2 linked regions of the Homo sapiens genome follow. The protein of the gene in region 1 interacts with the protein of each later gene in a pairwise test. Each region holds a gene or a part of one and is shown in the gene's direction. Other genes may lie near its edges.

Region 1 (3,584 bases):
TATCTAGAACCTTCCCCGTGATCCCCATCCCTCTCTATCTAGAACCTTCCCCGTGATCCCCACCCCTCTCTATCTAGAACCCTCCCCGTGATCCCCACCCCTCTCTATCTAGCCCCTCCTCGTGATCCCCACCCCTCTCTATCTAGAACCTTCCCCGTGATCCCCACCCCTCTCTATCTAGCACCTTCCCCGTGATCCCCACCCCTCTCTGGGCACACACGCCACCCCAGACACACACGTGGAGCGCCCCTAGCATGAGCACTAGAGCCCCCCGGGGGTGGTTTCGCTGCATTTTGTCTGCGTTTCTGCTGTTTTATGCACGGCACACCCAGTGCTCCTCTTCTGAAGATAAAACAGAGACAGAGAGCTGGCCACACAGACTCAGGGCCCGGGCTCTCTGAGGCTGTGAGGGGCTGGGCGGGGTTACCGTGGGACTGCTGACCAGGGCCCCCGGAGCTGGCCCTGGTGTGCAGTGCCTGCAGCCTGGGACCCCCACGTGGAGCCTCTCCTCGGATGTGTCCGCTCCTTCTCCCCGTCTCTGCTGTGGGGGCCGCTGGTGGAGGGGGCGGGGCCTCCTCCAGAGCCCCCGCAGGGCTGGTGTGAGTGGGCACGGTGACTGTGCTGCCGCCAGGGCCAGACGCGTTACCCTGCAGGGCACTGTCTTAGCAGATGCGGGTGGCGAGCGTGCCAGCCCCAGCCGTGGACAGGGCCAGGGAGCTGAGGGGCCTGAGCCTCCTGGTGCAGCAGGTGCTGGGCACAGCCCTGGACAAGACGCAGCAGCTGTCCAACTGGGACCGGAGGCCGCTCTGCGAGGAGCAGGTCATCTACGCAGGTGTGCGGTGCGGCGGGTGGGAGTGACCCCTCCTCACGCCCCTCCCGCCCTCTGTCCCGGGAGGCTGAGGCCGACTCCCCACACAGCTGCCGACGCCTACTGCCTGCTGGAGGTGCACCAAGCCCTGTGCAGAGAGCCCGCCCGCTTCCACCTGTCGGAGGACCTGGCTGGGAGCCGGAGGCCCAGGCACAGAGAGAGACCAGGGGCACGGAAGCCACCCGGCCTGCAGAAAGCGTCAGCACCGGCCGCACCCAGGCAGGTGGGTGAAGCCCCGCAGGGTCCGTTTGTCAGCATTCTTGGGGAAGGAGATCCCTGTCCATAAACCAAGGACCTGCATGGAGACAAGGCCACTGGGTCAGAGCGTGTGGAGGGGGCCCAGCTCCTGGAGCGAGAGGGGAGCAAAGTCCTGGTGAACCTCCTGCATGACTGTCACGGGGGCTGCGCTTGCCTGGGGGGTCACTGCTCAGGAGGCAGCCGTGCCCCTGAGTGCCCCAGTCCCCTCCTGATACTTGGCCTGGCAGGCCCCTCCCATGGCCCAAGGCAGCATCTAGCCCCCTCCCCGTGATCCCCACCCCTCTCTATCTAGCCCCCTCCCCCTCCCCTCTCTATCTAACCCCTCCCCGTGATCCCCACCCCTCTCTATCTAGCCCCCTCCTTGTGATCCCCACCCCTCTCTATCTAACCCCTCCCCGTGATCCCCACCCCTCTCTATCTAGCCCCCTCCCCATGATCCCCACCCCTCTCTGTCTAACCCCCTCCTTGTGATCCTCACCCCTCTCTATCTAGCACCTTCCTCGTGATCCCCACCCCTCTCTATCTAACCCCCTCCTTGTGATCCCCACCCCTCTCTATCTAGCCCCCTCCCCGTGATCCCCACCCCTCTCTGGGCACACACGCCACCCCAGACACACACGTGGAGCCCCCCCAGCATGAGCACTAGAGCCCCCCAGGGGTGGTTTCACTGCATTTTGTCTGCGTTTCTGCTGTTTTATGCACAGCACACACAGTTTTATCTTTTGAAGATAAAACAGAGACAGAGTGCTGGCCACACAGCCTCAGGGCCCTGGCTCTCTGAGGCTGTGAGGGGCTGGGGGGTGACCGTGGGACTGCTGACCAGGGCCTCACTGCAGGTCCCTGTGGCTGTGGCTGTGTCTGAGGGCGCTGCCCCTCAGATTCCGGCCAGGGCCTTCCGTGTGGTGTGTGACAACATGCTGCAGGGGCTGGCACGGAGCCTCCGCTGTCTCGGTGTGGATGCACGCATGCTGGGCAATGGTGAAGACCACCGCAGGGCGGCCGAGGTGAGTTTGCGGGGAGGGTCTTGGGGTCCTCCCAAGGTGCAGCTGCCCCTAGCACAGGTGTGCCCACCCCTAGCATCAAACTCCTCCCTCCAGCTCATCCATGGCTGCCAGCTGTGCCAGGCAGGCTCTGGGAACAGGACGGGGTGGCCAAGGATGGAGCGGTTGGGGGCCAAGTGGCTGAGATGGTCCCAGCCTCAGCCCTCATTGTCCCACAAAAGGAATTTACAGATGTAATTGACACTATTAATCAGTTGAACTTAAAATAGAGAGTCTATCTTATTTGGGTGGGCCCAGTGTAATCACATGAGCCCTTAAAAGCAGAAATGGGGCCGGACGCAGTGGCTCATGCCTATAATCCCAGCACCTTGGGAGGCCGAGGTGGGTGGATCACTTGAGGCCAGGAGTTGGAGACCAGCCTGACCAATATGGTGAAACCCCGTCTGTACCAAAAATAGAAAAATTAGCCAGGCGTAGTGGCGGGCGCCTGTAATCCCAACTACTCAGGAGGCTGAGACACGAGAATCGCTTAAACACCGGAGGCAGAGGTTACAGTGAGCTGAGATCACGCCACTGCACTCCAGCCTGGCTGACAGAGCAAGACTCCATCTTAAAAAAAAAAGAAAAAAAGCAGGAATGGAACACAGAAGACAGAGAGATTCAAAGCACAGGAAGGATTCAGTGTCCCATTGTTGGCTTGAAGATGGAGGACGCCGCACAAGGAAACCTCAGTCCAACAGCCACAAGCAGCCAGATTCTGCCAACACCTGACCAAGCCCAGAAGCAGGTTCTTCCCCGGAGTCTCCTAAGAGGAGCCTGCCGTCGCGAACACTGTGATTTCAGCCATGAGACCCTGAGCAGAGAACCTGGTTGAGTCCACCGGACTTCTGGACTTCCACAGAACTATGTTGTAAGCTGCTAAGCTTTTAGTAAATTGTGACAGCAGCATTAGAAAAATGACATGGAGGCTGGGTGCTCACGCCTGTAATCCCTGCACTCTGGGAGGCCGAGGCGGGTGGATCACAAGGTCAGGGGTTCAAGACCAGCCTGGCCAAGATGGTGAAACCCTGTCTCTCCTAAAAATACAAAAATTAGCTGGGCGTGGTGGCGGGCGCCTGTAATCCCAGCTACTCGGGAGGCTGAGGCAGAGAATTGCTTGAACCCGGGAGGCAGAGGTGGCAGCAGTGAGTGGAGATCGCACCACTGCACTCCAGCCTGGGTGACAGAGCAAGACTCCGTCTCAAAACAATAGAAAAAAAGAATGTGGATTGTGGTACCAGGAGTGGGGTGCTGGTGTAACACACAGCTAAACATGCGGAAGTAGTTTTAGAATCAGGGGATGAGTGGAGGGTGGGAGAGTCCTGAGGATCACAACATGAAAAGCCTAGAGGGCCTTGAAACCGACCGTCTGTGGAAATACGGACATTAAAAGTGTCGAAGGTTCAGAAATAGAGGTG
Region 2 (3,584 bases), on another chromosome or scaffold:
TCAAGGCAGCTGTTCCTGCTCCTTCCCTTTTTCTCTTCCCATCTCAATAGCGACCTTTGGCATCTCTAGTCATAAAACCGTGGTCTCTTACTTGAAAGCATTTATCTCCAATTCTAATGAATCAATTAATTACACTGGTATTATAGCTCCCTAGAATAAGTGGGGATATAAAGTTGTCTCTCTCATTAAACAATGATGGGCAGGGATTGCATCTGTGTTTTCCATTGTAAATTCTAATGCTTTTCCACTCCTGAAAATTTTGTAAGATATAGATAAGACCATGGAACTCATTCTTCTGCTTAAATTCCTCCAGTACTTGCCAATCATAATTGGAACCAAATCCAGACTCCTTACTAAGGCCTCCTTTGATGAACAGCTTCCTGTTGCTTTGCTAACAGCCTTTCCTAGTCGTCTTCTTTCTTATGACATTCCTCTCTCTTTTACGCCTGTCAAATTCATTACAAAGTCAGAGGTATTCTATTTGCCTTTCTTTCCTCCTGAAGCATTTATCACTAATCTTCATATAAAGCTTTTCTCTTCTCATCTTTTAGACCTTGATATAAATTATATTTACCCAAAGTAACTGCCTCATACCCTGCCCTCGCTCGCATACATTCTCTCCATCACATCCATATGAATTTTTTTTGTTTTAAATGTGTTTTCTTTCTCCCAGAAGTTGACTGTAAGCTCTCTGACAGCAGGCTGCCTCCTTGAGAATTGTATCCTCATATTCTACAACACAGCCAGTCACATTATGATCATTTGTAAATATTCATTCATCATAAAGGAATAAATTATAAAAGCTATATTTATGATGCATTATTGTGAGGTTTATTCTGTTTTTCTAAGCCTTATTTTTGAAGGGCAAATGAATTTTATCATAAATGATCCATTTAAAAGAATTTGTAAATTTCCTATTCTAAGTATTACATTTTGCATAGGCTTTAATGTTAAAATATTGAGAAACACAGTCCTTTGAAATTGTATTCCACTGCTATGGAATTGCTACACTGTGGACCATACAAACAGGTATATAAATCTTCATTGTAATCACACATTCGCAGAGAATATGAAGTACATTTACTGTTATTAAATTTCTGCCTCTTACAATTTTTTGCCATCCTTGTTTCTCAAATTATATTTTCCAGAGACCAAAGGATGTTAAATTGTGAAATTTAAATTTCTAACCTAAATATTATAATAGAATTTTATTTTAATGAAGAAGGACTTAGGAAAGCAATACATTATGGATTAAAACATAAGGCAAAGGATTAACCCAAGCAGGCATCTGGAATGTACTAAAAGAAATGACGTGTACTAAACGAATGGGCGCGGTGGCTCACGCCTGTAATCCCAGCACTTTGGGAAGCTGAGGTGGGCAGATCACGAGGTCAGGAGATCGAGACCATCCTGGCTAACACACTGAAACCCCGTCTCTACTAAAAAATACAAAAAATTAGCTGGGCGTGGTGGTGGGCGCCTGTAGTTCCAGCTACTTAGGAGGCTGAGGCAGGAGAATGGTGTGAACCCAGGAGGTGGAGCTTGCAGTGAGCAGAGATGATGCCACCGCACTCCAGCCTGGGCGACAGAGCAAGACTCTGTCTCAAAAAAAAAAAAAATGGAAAGAAAGAAATGACGTGCTTTCACCTTCAACAGTGGCACTATAATATTTTGGGCTGGACAATTCTTCATTTTTAGGGAGCTGTTCTGGCTCTTTTAAGATGTGTAGCAGCAGCCCTGGCCTCTACCCACCAGATGCAGTATTATCTTCCCCTCCAGTTGTGACCAAAAAAAGTCTGCAGATCTTGTCAAATATCCCTGGCAGAGAGGGGGCAAAACTACCCCCAGTTCTATACATATATTATAAGGCATTTGCTAGAATTTCAGAATTATCATTTTTCACAAGATACTTTGGCCCTAGAAATGCTGACTCAAAGCCATTATTTTGGGCCTTCTACCAATGACGTGTTTGTTTCCCTTGAAGGCTTGCCAGAATCTTTATGTAGGTGACTCTAGATCATGGTTATTTATTTTCATTTTCTCAGATATTAAAGCATATTTTCCTTCTGAGTTTTGAATGGTAAGGGTAAGGCTATTCACCGCATACTATCATCCAAATAGAAGTGGATGTGCAACCACAGATATTTCATTGAAAAATCTCAGAAAGAGAAAAGCGTATTAAACATCACAGATACAGATGTCTACGCTGAAATGTCAACTTATAGATAGATGGCATAACCCTAAAAAGGTTGACAATTCCATTTTTGGTGCAGTTACAAATCATTTCACTTGTTTGTATTTCAGGACCTCCAGGATATAGTGGCTACCCTGGGCCCCAGGTCAGCTACCCACCCCCACCAGCCGGCCATTCAGGTCCTGGCCCAGCTGGCTTTCCTGTCCCAAATCAGCCAGTGTATAATCAGCCAGTATATAATCAGCCAGTTGGAGCTGCAGGGGTACCATGGATGCCAGCGCCACAGCCTCCATTAAACTGTCCACCTGGATTAGAATATTTAAGTCAGGTAATTTCAAAGACACAAAATACTCATAAAAAACAGAACTGTGCTTCCAGCTTGCTTAACCAGATTAGCAAATGAATAATTCACCAAAGTCTGAAATAGCAAAACTGTATTTTCTGCTAACAGATTACTCTAATTCTTCTAGGTCTGGTTCAATTTTAAAGCAAAATACAAATGCCTTAGAAAATTGTATTTTCTGTTATCTTAAATACAATCTATGATAATGGCCAATAGCAAACATTTAATTAGCACTGTTTCCTGCCTTTGTTGTATGCCTGATACATGTATTAACTCATTTAATCCTTATTGAAAGTCTGTGATGTATAGGTGCTACATTTTTCAAAAGAAGAAACTGAGGTCCAGAGAGGTTATATAGCTCACTCTGGGGTGAGAACCTAAAGAGTCAAGACTGTTTTTTTAATCCCGAAACTTTGGTACTGAGCGAAGTGCTCTTTAGTCTCAATACTGAATAATTGCCTTATAATTTGGAAGAAAATTTAAATAAAGTTTATTGTTGAGTTTCAATAAGTGGCCCCAAACAAGGGGTTAATATTTTATGTATAATATGACTCACCTTTTTATTGTAACTAATAAAACTGCATTTTTATGATGCTGCTTTTGTTCTTTGGAAGACCTAATTTTATAAATGCCATTAATAAAGGAGTAAAAAGTCCTGGATTTTGTTGCACTAAATTATAATTAATCTCAGCAATAAGAGGTTTAACATTTAATTGGTGTTAGAAATCAGGTAGGTCAAATAGAAACAAGAAACTCTGTGTGTCCAGTCTATACACATACAAATATTCTTGTGATATTCAACCAGTTTTCATTTCATAAATCATTTCTTTCTTGCACTCTCTTTAGTAACTTAATTTCCCACAATGTGCTTAAGTGGCATAATCATAGGAATTTTTGGTCATTATTATATTATGCAAGAAATACATAGAAATAGATATTTTAAAAATCAGAGTCTCATAAAATACATAAAGGATGTTATCACATATGACAAAGGTTGATATTAAGTATGCTTAATACAAATCTGAAACTTGTAAAAAAAAATCTCTT

What was found.
Region 2: the proteins of EXD3 (region 1) and PLSCR1 interact in a two-hybrid assay, tested with the Homo sapiens proteins (one large-scale study listed by BioGRID and IntAct).

Annotation. Positions count from the first base shown.
Region 1 is NC_000009.12:137,346,617-137,350,200, reverse strand, and holds part of EXD3 (exonuclease mut-7 homolog), read left to right. Parts: intron 1-666; coding exon of another isoform or gene 667-669; coding exon 670-832; intron 833-918; coding exon 919-1,091; intron 1,092-1,962; coding exon 1,963-2,130; intron 2,131-3,584. UniProt on the Homo sapiens protein: Possesses 3'-5' exoribonuclease activity. Required for 3'-end trimming of AGO1-bound miRNAs.
Region 2 is NC_000003.12:146,527,552-146,531,135, reverse strand, and holds part of PLSCR1 (phospholipid scramblase 1), read left to right. Parts: intron 1-2,304; coding exon 2,305-2,522; intron 2,523-3,584. UniProt on the Homo sapiens protein: Catalyzes calcium-induced ATP-independent rapid bidirectional and non-specific movement of phospholipids (lipid scrambling or lipid flip-flop) between the inner and outer leaflet of the plasma membrane resulting in collapse of the phospholipid asymmetry which leads to phosphatidylserine externalization on the cell surface.